2 linked regions of the Homo sapiens genome follow. The protein of the gene in region 2 interacts with the protein of the main gene of each other region in a biochemical or structural test. Each region holds a gene or a part of one and is shown on either strand. Other genes may lie near its edges.

The links. Proteins that work in one complex are often made in the same cells at the same time.
Region 1: the proteins of JDP2 (region 2) and HDAC5 form a complex in vitro, tested with the Homo sapiens proteins (one study listed by BioGRID).

The regions. Positions count from the first base shown.
Region 1 is NC_000017.11:44,112,466-44,121,164, forward strand, and holds part of HDAC5 (histone deacetylase 5), read right to left. Parts: intron 8,131-8,699; exon of another isoform or gene 7,973-8,130; intron 7,639-7,972; exon of another isoform or gene 7,522-7,638; intron 5,240-7,521; 5' UTR 5,051-5,239; coding exon 5,029-5,050; intron 3,531-5,028; exon of another isoform or gene 3,447-3,530; intron 1-3,446. UniProt on the Homo sapiens protein: Responsible for the deacetylation of lysine residues on the N-terminal part of the core histones (H2A, H2B, H3 and H4).
Region 2 is NC_000014.9:75,437,563-75,446,261, forward strand, and holds part of JDP2 (jun dimerization protein 2), read left to right. Parts: intron 1-335; coding exon of another isoform or gene 336-358; coding exon 359-559; intron 560-8,699. UniProt on the Homo sapiens protein: Component of the AP-1 transcription factor that represses transactivation mediated by the Jun family of proteins.

The DNA.
Region 1 (8,699 bases), on a different chromosome or scaffold from region 2:
ATCCCCCTCCCCCTTCCTGATGTCACAGTTGCTATTTTGGAGCCCCCTCCTTGACCCCCACTCCAGGCATGGAGCCAGGGACACCTGTCCTCTCTCTGGACTGGATGACCTCACCCTCTTGTTGGGAGCCCAGGAGAAGCTGGCCAACCAAGGACACAGTGGCTGTGGCTCCTGGAGCCCAATTTCCCAGCCAGCTTCTGCCAGTCAGGGATGGCAAAGGGGTCTCCTGCCCTCAGGCTGGGAGTGGGAGGATTAGGGGGACCACACCTATAGGCAGAGGCAGGCTTTCCCAGGCCCTTGACTAGCAAGATGTATATGTTGCCAGGGGGTACCCAGTGGTGGACCAGCAAAGAAACAGGGGTCTGGAGCTGCAGCTTCTAAACCAGGGCAGATTCTAGAAAAAGGGCAGTGGAACAGTACTCCCTCAGAGGCCTAGTGCTGGTGGACATTCAGGGTATGGCTGGGGATCTTGTTCACCACCCCTTGCCCCAACCTCATCCTGGCCAACCAGGCCCTCTCAAGAGGAAGGGAAGGGAAGGTCTCCATCAGTGGGGTGATGGGCAGCAGATTCAAGGGAGCCCAGAAAGCCAAGAGCAGCAACCCCTCCCAGCCCAGGACTCCTCCCACCCACGCTAGGAGTAACCAGAAGGGCTGGCTAGCCCTGTCCCAGCTCTCTCTGCCTGCCCCAGGCATAGGAGAGTGTGGCAGGAGAGCCTTATTCTAAAGAAGAGGAAGGCGTCAGTTACCAGGACTCAAAAGCAGGGCCCCCAGAACCTGGAGCACCCAGACATTGAAGGAAACAGGACTTCCTGCTTAGGGAAGATAGTAGCACCCAGGACAGGGACACCCAGAGGTGGCTGGAGCCGGGAGCTGGGGAGCCAGCTCCCAGCACCATTACAGCCTCCAACAAGTAGGAAGCAAAGTATCAGACACAGTCAGAAAATCCTCAGTGCAATTCCCAGAACCCTCCAAGGCAATAAGAGAGGAGATCTGGGATGGGGACAAATGTCTTTTTTTCTTCTGAGATTCAGGTGATACAAGGTCCTCCTAATGTCTAACTTCAATCCTTCATGCTTTAGCCCCCCTCCTTGCAATTCACTTCTCTTTTCCGTTCTCTCCCAACCAGCACACCCATGTATCATCCCACAAACCTTATGGAGCACCCACCAAGCATGGGGTACATGAGCTTCACCCAGAGCCAGGACTGTCTTCCCCAGACTCACTCTGCCCCTCCCTCAAAGGCTGCACTCTGACCTCCTAGCCCTCTGAATCTGAAGGAGGAAAAGAGCCTAACCCTGGCTCCAGGTTCCATTTCCTGAGCCCAAAGGCTGTGGGGATGGGGGGACCTTGACCAAAGGGAAGAAAGCAAGGTCTGCTTAGTGTGCAGTGAAAAAGCCAATGGCTGGCCCAGGAGCACCCTGGATGAAGTGTGAGATGCCAGCTTCCCTGAGACCCAGATATCAGACCTGCCCACCCTCCTGTTCTTTCCTGCCCTTCGAGCCCAGTCATGCTGGAGCCCATCAGCATGGCCTGGGAGCTGCCATGTGCCAGCCAGGCCCCATGCTAGGTGTTGGCTGAACCCTCTCATTTGAAGCCAAGTCCAGGAAAAATGTGAACACCTACTTTGGCATCTTCTACTTCCCCTCAGGGTTGACCCTGCCTTCTCTGGCCATTCCATTCTAAGCCTTCAATCTCTTTGGAATGATAGAGCAGGGAAGAGGAGGGGAGAAGCAGGTCCCGCTCTGCAGTGAGCACAGAGGTGTGCCAGGGGGCATCTCAGTAGAGAAGGGAGGCCAGGAGTCTACTTCTCAGACCCCAGCCCCATGCCAGGATTGACCCACTTTCTCACTGCCTGCCTTCCCTGGGGGCTCTGAAGGAGGCAGAGCCCAAGGCTGGAAGGCAGGACACCGAGGTTCCTGGCTCCACCCCACACCCATGCCCCAGTTTCTCTGGTCACCCAGAGAGCAGGCGTGGGGGGGGGGGGCTGCTGCCCTCCATCCTGGAAAAGGGAAAGAGAGAAAGTGTGAAGGTTCTGGGAGGCGCTGGGCAGGCAGGTGTTGTCATGAAGCTTGTCTCCCTCCCACACTGGGGAGAAGGATCCTGGCCGCCTCCTCCATGGCCCCGCTGCCACCCAGACTGGCTTGCACAGTGGGCCTCACTCTTGCCTGCTCTTCTGGGCAATGGCACAAAGAGGGTACAACCAGAGCTGGCCTGGGTCCCAGGCCCCTGGGCAGCTCCTCCAACCTGGTTGGGCCGAGTCTGAGCTGAGGGAAAGTTCTGTCAGCCTTTCAGCCCCACTGAGGAGAACATGCAGAAGCAAACAGTTCCAGAAAAATAAAGACAGCCTTAATCCTCAAACCCCCTTTTGCCGGAAGAAAAGGCAGAGATCAGGGAATGGTCTCAGGGAAGCAGGCAACCCCATCAATAGCCTCCGCCTGTGATTCCAAGACTGCAAAAGAGGTAAATAAAGTCAAAGGCTGGTAGGCAGCCCGAGCCAGAGGGAAGTCATCAGCTCCCACCTTCCTGGGCAGTGGGCCCCAGAAGGAAATCACTCACAGTCTCCACCTGCTGCCCCTCACCAAAACAGTCTCTCTTGCTAACATGTTCACTGTGAGGACCAGGGATGGCCCATCTCATATTTTCTTCTGTCTTCCACAGGCTGAGCCTGTTGGTGATACTCAGTGAGGACTTGCCAAACTGAAAAGCTCCTACGCTGAGAGGACTTGAGGGGAACCAGAAGCTCTGCCCCTTACAAAGCCTACTGTCCTTTACTCTGGGGAAAGAGGAGCAAGTGTTCAGGGAAGTGAGGAAAAGGTGGGAGGCGCTCAGGGGCTGCAGCAGACCCTGGGGACTAACCATTTCCTTCCTTCCCACCTCTTATCTCCTGCCCCATGGCCCATACCTTTCCTTCTTGGGGCTCTCTACAGGGAAGTGGACACCCGCGTGCTCTGGCTTCAATCGGTGGTCTCACTTTACTTCCGCCGAGTTCCAAGGCATGTGGTTTCCAGGCTTCTGCCAGGCGCTGGGCACCCCAGCCCTAGCCCAGATGCCAGCCCAAGCTCTGGGAATAGCAGACGCTAGGCCCCTCAGAAAGGAAGAGCTGGGGGGAGGCTGACTATCTCCCTGGCCCAGGGCAGCTGGAACCCCACAACTGGGAAAGCCAGTCCAGAACCCCAGGAACACTCTGCAGGAAGGGCCTCAAGCAAACATCCCCAAGCAGTGGCCCCAGTTCCAAAGCCTCTCAACAATCCTAAAATGAGGTTCCCAATCCCTGGCCCCCTCCTTTTTTCCTTCTTTCCCCAACACAGAGAAGACAGCATCTCCCCCTGCTGGGGGGAGCTGGAAAGCCAGGCAGGACGCGGGGCCCATTCCACAGGCCCACTCAGGACGCCCCTCCTGGCCAGGGCTCAGCAGTGGCTCTCAAGCTGCCAGCCTCCTGCGTTGGTGGACACGTCCAGCTCCTCCAACACTCTTGTCAGCTCCCACAGAGGTAGCTGCAAGGGAAACTTGGACCGCCAGCATCTGGAAAGGTAACCCAATAACTTCATCTATCCTGGGTTGATTATCACATTTCCCTGCAAGGGAAAGAAACCCCAAAGCTGGGAAAAATCCTTTCCAAGCCACCAACAGATGCCGCTAGGCAGCTTCAATTCCCTTGGCCAAGAGTTAGACCCCAGCCCCATGGGAAGCAGGGACTGCAGATGGCTCCTGGACAGGTCAGCGTCACAACTCAGAGGAAAGAAGTAGCTGGCACTACTGCCCGACATGGCTGAGCTTGCTGGGGTAGTGTCCAGCCAAGATGCACGAGGGACAGATGAGGACCCAGGCCTCTCCTTTCCCTTCGCCATCCAGCCTCAGAGGGGCAAGCAAGAGGGCAGAGCTGGGCAGCCCACCTGTCCCAGCCCCTAGGGGCTGAATGAGGGCAAGGGCAGAGGGAGGAATATCTGAAGGAGAACAGCAAACCCTACAGAAAGGATGATGGGGAAGAAAATGTGGGGTGGTCTGGATTCCTCCCTGATGCTGCTTCTGTACAATCCTGCAAATGGGTATTCATCCTAGGCCCCAATTGCCCTATCTCTAAAAGGAGAAATATCCACCTACCCCTACATAAAAAAGATGAGGAGTACGATGGGCCGTGGAGAGCTAAAGTTGAGCAAGATGGACCTTTAACACTGTGTGGAAGGAGACACCCGAGGAGGAGGAGACGACAGCCACTACTCTGACCACACTGCCCCAGGACCCTCCTGGGAAACTGCTGAGGGTCCAGCTCAGGCCACTAGAACACAGCCTCACAGGCATACATCCAGACCCAGCTGCACATCAAGCTGCCTAGAGTCCCCCAAATAGACTATTTCTGGCAGCACTGGACAGGGTCCTAGGAACAAAGAGGAACAGGAAATCTCAGAGTAAAAGACCCCAGATTAGCAATCTACCATATGAAGGGCCCAAGAGGAAGAGAGGCAGTCTACCTGGACTCAGAGGAGAGCCGAGACTCCTCTACACACGTCACCCCACTCCCACCCAATGCCACGCACCTGCACACGGAGGTTAAGGCCCAGTGCCCTTGTAAACCTCCACTAAGAAAAAAGTATGGAACACAAACATTCCACTAAGTAAAGAAGCCACCATCACGAAAAGGAAGCTGAGCATTCTGCTATAGTAAAGAAATTCCTCCAACATCATCCCAGACTGCCCAGAGAGATTAAGGGATACACACTGCCCCCTCAGGCCCACCTGTCTTGGCTAGCAGGGGAAGGCGAAGCTGGAGCTGAACACCCCTAAGTTGAGAGGGCAAGCATGGGGGGCAGAGTAGGACCCATTGCCTTCCCAGGACCAGACCGGACCATCGATCCCTCGATTCCCAGGTCTACCTCATGGGCCCTTTCTTGCAACACTTCTCCACTCCTTACCCCCTCATTCCCTTATAGCTCAGACAGTAAAGGTCAGCTGGCCTGGAAGGGAAACCCACACAGCCCATTGCATCCGAAGCTACCCCAGGGTGCTCTTCTCCAACCTCCCAGCTCTTACCCGACTCGTTGGGAGAGTTCATGCCGGCTCTGGGCCTGCAGGAAGCTGGCGTTGGGGGCTGGGACGGGAGGGGGTGGAGCTGCGGTGATGTCAAGAGAGACAGACGATAACAGACAGACGGACGGGACGGGAGCCCGGGGCCGCCGTGCCTCTAATGCCCATCCGAGGCCATCCTTCGGGGCGAGGCAGTCAGGCACTCAGAACGGCATCCCTGGGGAGAGATGGAGCAGGGTTAGAGGCCCCTAACTCAGGAATCTGAGAGTCGAAGGAGACCTTGGAGCTCATCAGTTTGTACCTGGGGATGAGGGATGAGAGGGAGGGATACCTGCCCACAGCCACAGGAGAAATCTGCAGAACTGGATAGACCCTGGTTTCTTATCTTACTAACTGATGAGGCTCCCAGAGCCCAAGGGATAGGAAATGGCTATGGTGGCCAAACCCAACAGACCCCTTTTCAGGTGAGTGTCTACTGCCAGCTGGGGAGACCCTATAGACTCCCAACAGTGCCTGCCATGGGACTAGGTGTGCACCAAAGGAGAAAGTGCAGGGGGGCTTCTGATCTGTATCCATAGCAGTGGGGAGATGCAGGGCTGATCTAGAGTCCCTGGCAGAAGTGAAGGGAGAAACTGGTATCCCAGCCTCCATAGCCTAAGCTGGGACTTCTAGGGGTCTTCTCCCGACTTTCTGATCCTTGTGCCACCCAGCTCTGGAAATATGGATGTGCTTCTGTTTTGGTCTCCCACAGTTCAACAACAGACCAGGACAAGAGCTTCTCTTTCCAGGAATTGAGAAAGTCAGAGACCTCTCCATCCCAAATCTAGTACCCTTGGCCTGGCAGGTGCAGGGCCCAAGCCCAGCACTTTGTGTATATTGTACAGGTTGTGCTCTGTGTAAGGAGGTCTGGCCCAGGGAGATACGAAATCCAGCCTGTGCCCTGCCTGCCAAGCCATGGCCTGACATGCTGAGTCCACCCAAAACAAGGGACGATTTTTTCCCAGTTTGTACGAAAGCAACAAAAGGCCCAGCAGTAGCCCTGCTGAGGCCAGTATAGTAAAGGAGGAGGTATTACAGGACCACGGCTTTGCCAACCCATGCCCACTCCTCCAGTTCTCCCCCACAGTTAGTCCTCAAGCCTCAGACACTATGCATACAGACACCTGGCCCATCCCTAAACGGCCCACGATCCACCCCAGACATGATCTCATTCATTTGCTTCCAAATGAAGGCAGGCCCTCCAATACCCAATGAAAGCAAGGTAGCAGGAAGCCATCAGAGGAGGCTGTGAGCTGCTGCGAGTTTAAGCCCTAACTCTGCTCCCCAAGCCTCGAACCAGCAATCAGCTCTGCCCCCCTAGACAGCCCCACCTCCTGGCAGGATTAATTCTCAGTAAGCCTTACATTCTCATCAGATTCCCAAGGGTGGGGTCCATTTGGAGCCCAGAAGCCCAGAAGCCAGCTATGGCAGAAACACAAGAACATGAACACACATGCGCATGCACGCACACATGCACACACGAGACCCTGAGGTCCCAGGCTTGCTGCTGGGACCACAGGGCTTGGACTCTATGGCTGGAGAAAGGTGCACTCAGATTGGGGGGCAGAGTTGAAGGGGCTAAATTGCTCCTGACGGGCACAGGTATGGGATTAAGACAAAAAAGGCTGCGCAGGCAGGGCTGAGGCCAAGCTCAGGAATGTGGCAGGTAGGGCTGCTGGTGCTCTGGCAGGGCCCACGTGGGCAGGCAGTTCAGCCTGTGCCCACACCAAGGCTGGCACCCAGTCCTGCTCACACCCTTTCCCGTGGGCTGGGGAACACAGGTTCAGAAATGCCCACGATTCCCAGCAGCCTGAGTAGCCCAGTCCATCTCCACAGTGAGAGGCACCTCCACAGCAAGGTGCTCAGAAGGGGCACAGCCCCAGTGGCACAGAAACCAGGTTAAGGTTAGCCCCTAGCCCCCATCATCCTAACCCACCTACTCTCTCTGTGGGTCTTAAAGATGCTGATCCTCACCCCTGAGGCAGAAGAGGAAGGGAGCAGCTCCTTGAACTCATGGTGGGCTCGGGACTCATCTACGTCTACTCCTCCCCGTCCTATAAAATTCAGCAGGATCCCTGGGCCCCTGGGCCCTGTCCACCTGTAAAGAGTGTCTGCCAACACCCCCATCAAGTCTCCCAAGTGAACCAGAGCCACAGGCTGAGCCTCCCTGAGAAACAAAGCAGTGTTCATGGTCTGATCGGGACAAGCACAGATTCCTGTCTGGGGTGGGACATGAAGGGGAGAAGGGGAGCCTGATGTTTAAAACCTGAGCTGTTTGTTCCCACATCTGCCAGAGAAATCTGTTGGGTCTCAGTGGGAAGTCAGGGACACCAGGAGCTGTGTCCCAGATGACCTAACACTTGGATGCCAAACCAGGGAGTGGCCCAACTTCCAGGACATCATAAGCAGACAGACCCCTGCCCACCCCACTACCTCACACCAACTCTTTCTTCCAGACAGACCCCTACCCCACTCCGGGATCCAAAACCACCTCCCACATCCAGCCAAGACAGCCGGACAAGGATGAAGGAAACAGGCTACATCTCACCCTACAAGCTCAGGGCTGAGCCTATGGAAGTAGGGTGGAAACCCCAAACTCTGGCAAAGGGTGGGTGGAGGAGGGCAGACAAGTGAGGGGCACATGGTACAAAGCAATGCTCCAAAGGCCATAGGTTCACAATGTTACCCTGTAGAGATCTTGTTCCTCAAACAACTCCCTCAAAATTCCTGGGGAGTCAGGTGTCCCTTGAAGACCCTCTCTGGATCCTGGAGTCCAGTACCACCATGCAACCCCCTCCCAACACACCTGCTCTGGCCCCAGGCCAGGGTACCCCCTAGGTCATAGGTGACAGGGTCAAGCAGTGTGAATCAAGTCTTGGGAGTCTGAGATTGTTTCACTCTACCCCGACAGTTTCATCAAAAATTACAAACCGGCCAGGCGCGGCGGCTCACGCCTGTAATCCCAGGACTTTGCGAGGCCAAGGCAGGCGGATCACCTGAGGTCAGGAGTTCCAGACCAGCCTGATCAACATGGAGAAACCCTTTCTCTACTAAAAAAATACAAAATTGGCCAGGTGTGGTGGCGCATGCCTGTAATCACAGCTACTCGGGAGGCTGAGGCAGGAGAATCACTCGAACCCTGGAGACAGAGGTGCGGTGAGCCAAGATTGTGTCATCGCACTCCCGCCTGGGCAATAAGAGTGAATCTCCATCTCAAAAAAAAAAAAAAAGTTACAAGCCAAGACATCCCACCCAAAGGTCAAAGGCACTAGGAATTTATCTTGACCCCTCCTGACCATGGCCACAGCCTACCACTTTCCTCAGCCTCTGAGAGCTTCTGTTGCCTAGTGCCTCCCCCAAGCTAGGCCAACAGAAGCCCAGAAGGATCAGAGCCATGAAGGGTGGCTGACTTGGATGTCCAGGCCCCAAACCAGGGAAAGGGGGAGGGTGACAGGGAAGGAAAAAAGGCACCAGGCTGACAAATTCATTTTTGCAATCGGCCCATTTCTGTTTGTCTGCTCAGACGCAGCTCCAGGCATCTGCACAAGCCAGATGGAGGAGGCTGCTATTTCTAGAAAAAAAAAAAAAAAAAAAAAGAGAGGGGGGTGGTGAGAGGGGAGGAAGGGAGGAGGCGGAGG
Region 2 (8,699 bases):
CCTCTGATCCAGCCTAATGGGACTGCAGGATTACCATGGGGCCTGGCACATACCAAAGGCTGAATACATGTTGCCTATGATTGGGTCAAGCATTGCCTTCAAAATAAAAAAGGCAGACACTTCTGGCAGTGCCAAGGGTGACCTTGGTGTGAGTTAATTGAGCAACTTTTCCTCTATAACAGGAAGGACTTTACGGCAGGAAGAGCAGCTGGGTGGGAAAGGGATTCAGGGGAACATTGGTGAAAGAAGCCACAGTCCTGGCAAGACGAGGGACTTGAGCCCTCCTGGAGCCCCCAACCTGGCTGACTGTCCTGCTCTTTTCCTGCCCACTCCAGGCTGGCCTGCCACTCCTCCTGCTATGATGCCTGGGCAGATCCCGGACCCTTCGGTGACCACAGGCTCCCTGCCAGGGCTTGGCCCCCTGACCGGGCTCCCCAGCTCGGCCCTGACTGTGGAGGAGCTGAAATACGCTGACATCCGCAACCTCGGGGCCATGATTGCACCCTTGCACTTCCTGGAGGTGAAACTGGGCAAGAGGCCCCAGCCCGTGAAAAGTGAGGTGAGCGAGCCTTTTACCCCTGGCAGATTCCAGGTCTGGCCTTAAACCCACCATGGGACCTTAACCTTGCTGTTCAAAGTGTGGTCTGAGGACCAGTATCATCCGTACCACCCTGGGGTTATCAGAAATGTGGAATCCCAGGCCTCGCCCCAGGCCTTCTGTATCAGAATCTGCATCTTAACAAGATCCCCCAGGGATTCGTGGACGTATTAACACTTGAGAAGCACTGGGCCAGGGGAGGATGTTTAACCTGTCTCTGGTTCTCTGGGGGGCGGTGGAAGAGTGATAATAATGACAGTAATGAATAGTAATATCTTGGCCATCTCTCTGGGGTGGTGGGAGGATTGGGGAGATAATGGGAATGGGAATGTGTACATGTTTTGAAAAGTAGACAAGAGAATGCCAATATTAGGTTATCTTTTAAAATTGTTATCATTAGTCACATCGTGACCTCCACCCCTCTTGGCCCTTTCTGCAGCTGAACCAGGGAACTTGGAGGAAGAGTAGCGTGGCCTCCCTTCCCAAGCAGCTGCCAGAGCTAGGCATGGCCTCGGTCAGCCAGCAGTGTCCGCCTTAGATGGCGTTTGCCCGGGACCCACACGTGGAGCACCCACATGTGGCATTTGCAAGGAATTCCTCCTCAGGTCCCTTGCACCTGCAGCTCTCATGAGCCCTTTTTCTCGGGGCACTGGTGAGCAGCAGCAGTCCCCGGCATGGCTGAGGATCTGTGCAGGGCATGCCCCCGGCGACTTGCCCAGGGCTGGCCGTTTCTCTGAAGGCCTGTCCCAGCAAGGTTCCCAGCAGCGCCGTTTCTTCAGAGGCCTGCCAGAGTAGCTGCCCCCTGGAAAGGAGGAGCCTGTGGTGGGAGGTGGGGAAGAGGCTGGGATCGGGAGGGCGCAGGAAGCAGCTGAGCATCTGGGAATGGTAGCTCTGCTTGGAGGGAGAGTTCACAGGCAAAGATGAGCCTGGGGGGAGCTCGGAGGGCTGAAGTGCTGGAAGTGCTGGAGAGAGGACTTTCTTCGTGGAGAAGGGTGTCTGGGTACCCGTAGGGGAGAGCTGGGGATATTAGGCAACTATCTCTCAGCTCCCCTTCTCCTGATAGGTACCTAAAAACTGCAGAGGACTGCTGGGGGCTTGGCTGTGGTGGCAAACTGGCCGTGGTGGCAAACTGGCCATTTGCAGGCTGGACCTGGCTCTCAGATGTATTTTGTTTGGCCGGCTCAGTGTTTTAAAAGAAACGCGAACCCCCATTTCATTTGAAAATTTTGATTAAAAAATTGTAAGATCTCATCATACACTACCCTGTTCTGGCATGGTAATGGCTAAGTGGGGTGGACAGAGGCACTTCACTGTTTCCTCTTTCCAGTGGGCCACAGGCCCCTGCACCTCCCTGTTATTCGTGATCCTACTTACATTGTTGGTTTTGCTTTTGCTACTACCATCTGCCTTCATTTACCTCTACTGCCTGGTCCCTGTTAGCCATTTGTGCTCAAGACACGTGGATAAGGTCCATCATAGGTGCCTACTAAAGACTGTGGATTACAAGCTGTGAGTTGATGGTGATTACATTCTTCTGAATTGATCTTGTAAGCCAATGTGTCGTTGGGGCACATCCCGGCTTATATAGTGTTCTGTCTTCACGATGGAGGGTCCTTGTCTTTTGGCCCTCTGCTCCTCACCTTCCCAGGTCTGTAACTTGAGAGCATCTGTTTCTGGATCATTCCACAGTAAAATTGCCATTTAGAGCCAGTAGCTGAGCAGTTTCATGGGGGCACTAAGGCTGCGCATGGGGTTGATGAAGAGCCAGGTGTCTTGGGCAGAGGTCGTCAAGCTGGGATTCGCCTGGGGGGCTGAGTTAACACCTCTCTCCTCTGCAAAAGGCACTGGAGGAACTCTTCCCTTTTTTTATTTTTTATTTTTGGAAAAGCCACTTTTATTTGGGTTGGGTATTTTTACATTTTACAGCCACCCCCAAATTGGTGGCATCTGCCCTGTACCCGACAGTGACGTGCTGTCCTCACAGGCACCCACAGACGTGCACCATCCAGGCCGCAAAAATAACAAGCCGTTTTTAGGGCATATTTGCATGTCCTCTCCCTCGCTGTCAGACTGCAGTGTTGTGGGGGCGAAGAGGCAGATGGAGCTGCGAGATTGTACCGATGTAGAGAGATGCCAGCCCTGCACTGCGAACCGACCTCCAAATGCTTCCTAGGTCAGACCCCAGGGGCGGGAAGAGCTAATTCTTGGAGTAACTAAAACCTAAAGCGGGGTGGGGAAAGAAACTTGCAGCTGAAGAATCTATGGTCTGAAGATCTATTTGCATATGGCAAACTGCCTTGAGCGGATTTTCATATTGGCATTTTAGACTAGTAAAAGTTTCTTTAATAATAATCAGATACTAGCTCATTAAGCATTTAATATGTCCCAGGACCTGCACAAAGTGCTTAACATGCATGACTTCATTCATTCCTTATTCAGTCCTGGAGTCCAGGTTACCCCCATAGTAGAGAAGAGTTTGAGGTCTAGGGAGGGGGTTCAGTCACTCAGGGTCACACTGCTGGGAAGTGATAGCGCTGGGGCCTGGTGTGGTGGACGATGGCTGCCGTTACAGCCGGGTCTCACTTGTGCTGAGCTAAGCCCTAGGCACGGTACTAGGTCTCTTTGTGAAGTACCTTGTTTACCCTGCACAAGTACCCTCTGAAGTAACTAGTGTTGTTGCTGTTGTTATACCCACATTACAGATGAGGTCAACAAGGCTGAGGGAGGTCCAAGGTCACTGGCTGGGAAATGAGCTCAGGCAGTCTGCCTTGAGCCCAAGCTTTAACCACATGCCGTGTGGCCTCCCATGCCTCTATACCCCTTCCAGGCTTCTAACCAGAGCTCTGTTGAGCTGGGGAGGCTGGATGAACCTGGCCGCAGAATGTTCGATCATTTTGATGACATTGTCTGATGAGTGCTGAGCCCTGCAGTCCTGCAGCCTTACTGTCTCCTAGTTCCGAGAGAGAGAGAGAGGGAGAGAGAGAGAGAGAGCGAGAGAGCGAGCCGGCTGAGCCGCTGTGCGGGCAGCTCTGTCAGAGCTGGTTCTTGGGTTGTTTGCCTTGCAGAGGCCAGCAGTCTCCTGGGCTCTGTCCAAACGCATGGAGCAATTCAGTAAAAGAAAATGGGAGGAATTAAGTTCAACGACAGGTTTTGTGAATTATAAAGTGCTTTGTGCTGATGTCATTATTATTACATGGTCAACACATGACGTTAAACTGTTTTGGTGCCAACTGCTTGCCTGCAGTCCCTTTGTTCAAGCCATATTTGTTAAGCATCTACTATGTGCTGAGCACTGCACCAGGCACTGGGAACAGAGCTACAGATAAAGCAGTCAAAGCCTTACATCTCTCGGCACCGTATATTGCAGTGACGGCATCCAAAAGTAAGCAAATTAATACACGATATATAAGGTGAGTTAGTGGTCAGCACCACGAAGAAAAATTAAGCAGACCAAGGACGTGGCAGTGGTAGGACTGCTCATTCTGATGGTTGGCCAGGGACCCTGGGAACGTCATTTCCTGGGTTGTGGGATTTTTAAAGCTGTTGCTTCTTTCTCCTTTCTTTTCTAGTATTCGCTTTCAGGACAGCTTTGCTCTCTGGCTTTCTCCAGAGCTTTCCTTCCTTGACTTTTCCTCTGTAGCCCCTCACAGCTGGACTCCTCCACCAACCAGTCCCTATTGGCCTGAAGATCTTGGCCCTTCCCAGGTCATCTCCCAGCGAGCTGTGGCTGTGGTGGTCACACCCTGCCTCTGGGTCTGGAATGCATTTTCAGTTGGGAGGGGAGGGAGGCCTGAAGCCCCACCCTTGCACACACACATAGACACACCAGACACTTACTAATCAACCTGCTAGACAGGACCCCTCACCCTCTCGCCACGTCTCGGTGCTCTAGAGGGGACTCAAGAGTTCAAGGGAGGCTAAACTGGATGACCTTTCAGGAAAGAGGCTGCACACTGTCGTTAAGGGGCAGGAGTCGGCCTACAGATGAATCTTGTTCACAGGGTGGTTTGCTTTTTCTTTCTTTTTTAACAAAATCACAGTGTGGTTTTCTTTTTCTTTTTTAAAAAATTGAATGAATTGCCATATTTAAAAGCCGGGAAATGTGGACTCTCTGGCTTCTTTTAAAAAACCAGAATATCTACCCACTTAAGGCCACACCCTTATACACAACAAGAGGTTGGAGCTGAGGGGCAGATGCCTGCTGTATTTGTATACAGCCTTGAGTTCACCGCATTCCCCACTACTCACTGATGTCTTACCCCCAGCCCGCTTCATACCATCTGTGTTGCCAGCCTGATTTTGAGTCTGTGTCCCATGTTTATGTCCCACAGACCTTGCTTGTTTGTTTGAACATTATGAGCTGTGTCAACTTGGCAAGTCACTTAAACTTTATTCCTTGATCGCTCTACCTCCCAATTCTTATCTCCAGCCATTGTTCATTAGGTTTTGCTATTTCCAAATTTCGTTGACTTCAGGCAGAAAAAAACAAAATACAACAAAAATCAAACCAATCATTCCCAAACGTGGCTGGTCATCAAAACACCTTGGGAAACTTCTTAAAAAGTATAAATTTCTAGACCTCACCCAAGGTCCATGGAATCAGAATATCTGAGGGTAGAGTCCTGGGAAGCTGTATAGCTAGTAGGCTCAGAGATGACTCAGCTACTTTTGGGAATGTGACTCTTTGCGGTTTCTTCCTCTCCTCAGGCTCTTCTGATCCTTGTCAGGGAGCTTTCTGGGGGTGTCACCCCGAGGAATCGGTGCATACGTATCATTGTGGACTGCCCTTTCCAACGTAGGGCAGTTTCCTGTGTGTATTCCACATGGGGACCGGATCCGTGTCCTCATCATTTTCAGAGCTGGAGAGGAGACTTAACTGTCTGTGGATTTCACATTGGCGATTTCCCATCTTCTCCAGGGTCCCTGGAGAACATTGAGAGGGTTTTCCCGTTTTGGATGAAGTGTGAATAGGAATCCATGGACCAGAGAGCGGCCTTGGAAGCCATGTTCACTCAGCCCCAGGTGGTCTTCCCAGACTTTGTTCATAACAGAGACCAAGACGTGCATCCATGTTTAGCCTGAGCAGAAAAAGTTGCCCCAAACCAGCTGATGTGCTGGGTAAATGTTGGCCTAAGCATGCTTGTGTTTTTAGTGATTTGAAACGTAAAGGCAGCCCACTGACATTTTTTAGCAAGCTTTGCATAATTGGTTTTTAATTGTGGCTCTTTGGAATAGCATTGGCCTTCTTCCCCCTGACTCAGATGCTTTTTTTGTCTCATACTTGTTTGGCAGAGAGGTCCAATCTGTCCTCTCTTGGAACAGAATCTCCCAACTCATCTTTGAAATCCGTAATTTCCACTTTAGTTCCGTTACTTTGTTAGCACATTTTCGAAAGCTGTTAGCTTAAAAAAAAAAATTAAATTTGAGGGAGAATGAGTGATAGTTAAAGGCAGCTATGAGTGTGTTTAACATTGGCCCCTGTGGTGTTGAGTCTTATTTGATACCATATCCAGAGCATTCACAAGGGTTCTGAAGCTTTTATTTAAAATCAGAAGTCGGTCACACCCACTGTTATCCTAGCACAGGGTCCCTTGGAGAGGTGGTGGTGAGGACGTGGCTGGATCTCTATGTCCTTAGCAGAAATCAGACACCTCTGAAAAGCTCAGGAAGTCTTACAGCTTCTTAGGTTTTCTATTAATATCTTAAAGTGAGGATAATAATAATACCTACCTCTTAGTGTTGTTATGAATTTTTTTTTTTGAGACAGATTCTCACTCTGTTGCCCAGGCTGGAGTGCAATGGCATGATCTTGGCTCACTGCAGCCTTGACCTCTTGAGCTCAAGAAATCCTCTCACCTCAGCCTCCTGAGTAGCTGGGACTACAGGCACATGTCACCATGCCTGGCTAATTTTTGTATTTTTTGTAGAGATGGGGGTTTTGCCATGTTGCCCAGGCTGTTTTTGGACTCCTGGGCTCAAGCGATCCTCCCATCTTGGCCTCCCAAAGTGCTGGGATTACAGGCGTGAGCCACCAACCCCTGTTGCTGCTATGATAATGAAATGAACTAATGCTGCTAAAGGTTTCACATGATGCCTGGCACTTAGTAAGACACAGATATAAGGTAGGCTTGTGACTCACTTTTCAAATGTGTTGATCGTGCAAAGTAGTTTTTATAATTGAATCAAAAACCTGTTTCTTGGGCTTGTATTGACCTGAGGGTATTTTGTCCTCGGAGATGGTGGGTGGTCTGAGGCGTTGCAGGAGCAGGGCACATCCAGGCTTCCTAACCAGAGGGGCTACTTCTGGGGCCTGGGAAGAGTTCTGGGCTTGGGTGCAAGTTCTGGGTTCAAAGTCTGGCTCTCTCGCTCATTCCCAGCACAACCTTGGGAAAGTTAGCTCGTTTCCTCATCTGTAACAGGAGAAAATCCAAACTGCCCTTTCCAAAGTAGTACAGTTTCCTGCACATACTGCACATGGTGACTGGATCCACATCCTCATCACAGAGCTTCATCGCGAAGATTAAGTGAGGTGCTGTGTGAAAGATGACCTTGACTGCAGTGCAGTATGTCCGTAAATTACCTTTGTTAGAGACTGATTCCATGTGTAGTGAACTACCTATTCTGACAGCACTAACCTTTCTGAAGTATTAGCCTATGACCTGGGTTTCAGGGAAGCAAGCAGACTTTCCAGTTTCTGGTTGTTTATGCAGTTTAGACGCAGCTGGAGTTTTAATTATCATAACAAACTATAAATGAGAAGGCTTTTCAAGCCTCTGTTTTCCCCTAAGCTGCCTTCTGTGACCCCTTATCTTGTTTCCTGTGGTGTTAATGTCATCGTTGTATTCCCATCAACCAACAATCTTTTAGCAGCCTTAAGAAGGGCTGTCAAGTCTTCTGTCAATCCTACCATCTTACTTTGATGTTTCCAGGTCCACCGGCAACATGGACTCAGAGTTGGGAAACTGAGTCCTCTCCTGGGTGAGGCTCATCTGGCTGAACAACTATGAAGCCATTTAAGTCTGTTTTCCTTCTACTGTGCCCAAAAGGCACAAGGCAACCTGGCCTGAGGTTGGAGCATGGAGATCTAGAGGAACTCATGGATGGATTCAGGCGGGATGTGAAAGTGCTGGGAGTGAGGGCCTGGGCCTCCTCTGGGTTTAGCCACCCTTCCAGGTTGTGTACAACCTGCCATATGCTGGGGCTCATTGACTGTGCTCTGCTCTGTGGCTACAGGATCCCCTTTTACTGAGCGTAGTGCATGTGTATGCTCTGACAAACTCCTCCGTGGTTTGCCTCTGTAGTCCTCCCTACACCCTACCAACTCCCCAGTCCCCGCGAATAAAAACCCTTGCCTTTTTGGAGGCAATGTAGCAAAGCAGGACTGCTGCATTGGAATAGTTTGGCTCTGGAGAGTTCACTAGATGTTTGAAATTCAGTTTCGTCCCTTGTAAAAATAGGGGAAATAGACCCCTACCTAGTACCTAGTACCATATACATATATTATCTCAAAATGGATCGAAGGCCTAAATGTAAGAGTGAAAACTAGAAAACTCTTAGAAGAAAACAGCTGTAAATCTTTGTGACCTTGGATTAGGTAGTGGTTTCTTAGATTTTATGCCAAAAATAAAAGCAACAAAATAAAAAAAATAAATTGGACATCTTCAAAATTAAAAACTTTGGTACTTCAAAGGACACAAAGTAAAAAGAAAATCCACAGAATGAGAGAAAATGTTTGCAAATCGTAGATCCAATAAGGGACTTGTATCTAGAATATATAAAGAATGATTACAGCTCAATAATAAGACAAATAACCCAGTAGAAAAATGGGCAAAAGATCTCAATATTAATTTCTCCAAAGAAAATATATAAATGGCAACTAAGCACATGAAAAAATGCTCAACATCATAGCCATCAAGGAAATACAAGTCAAAAACCACAATGAGATACTACTTTGCACCCACTAGGATGACTATAGTGAAAAAAAAGAGATAATAACAAGTATTGGTGAGCATGTGGAGAAGCTGTCGTCATGAATTGATCGTGGGAATGTAAAATGATGCAGCCACTTTGGAAAACAGTCTGGCAGTTCCTCAAATGGCTA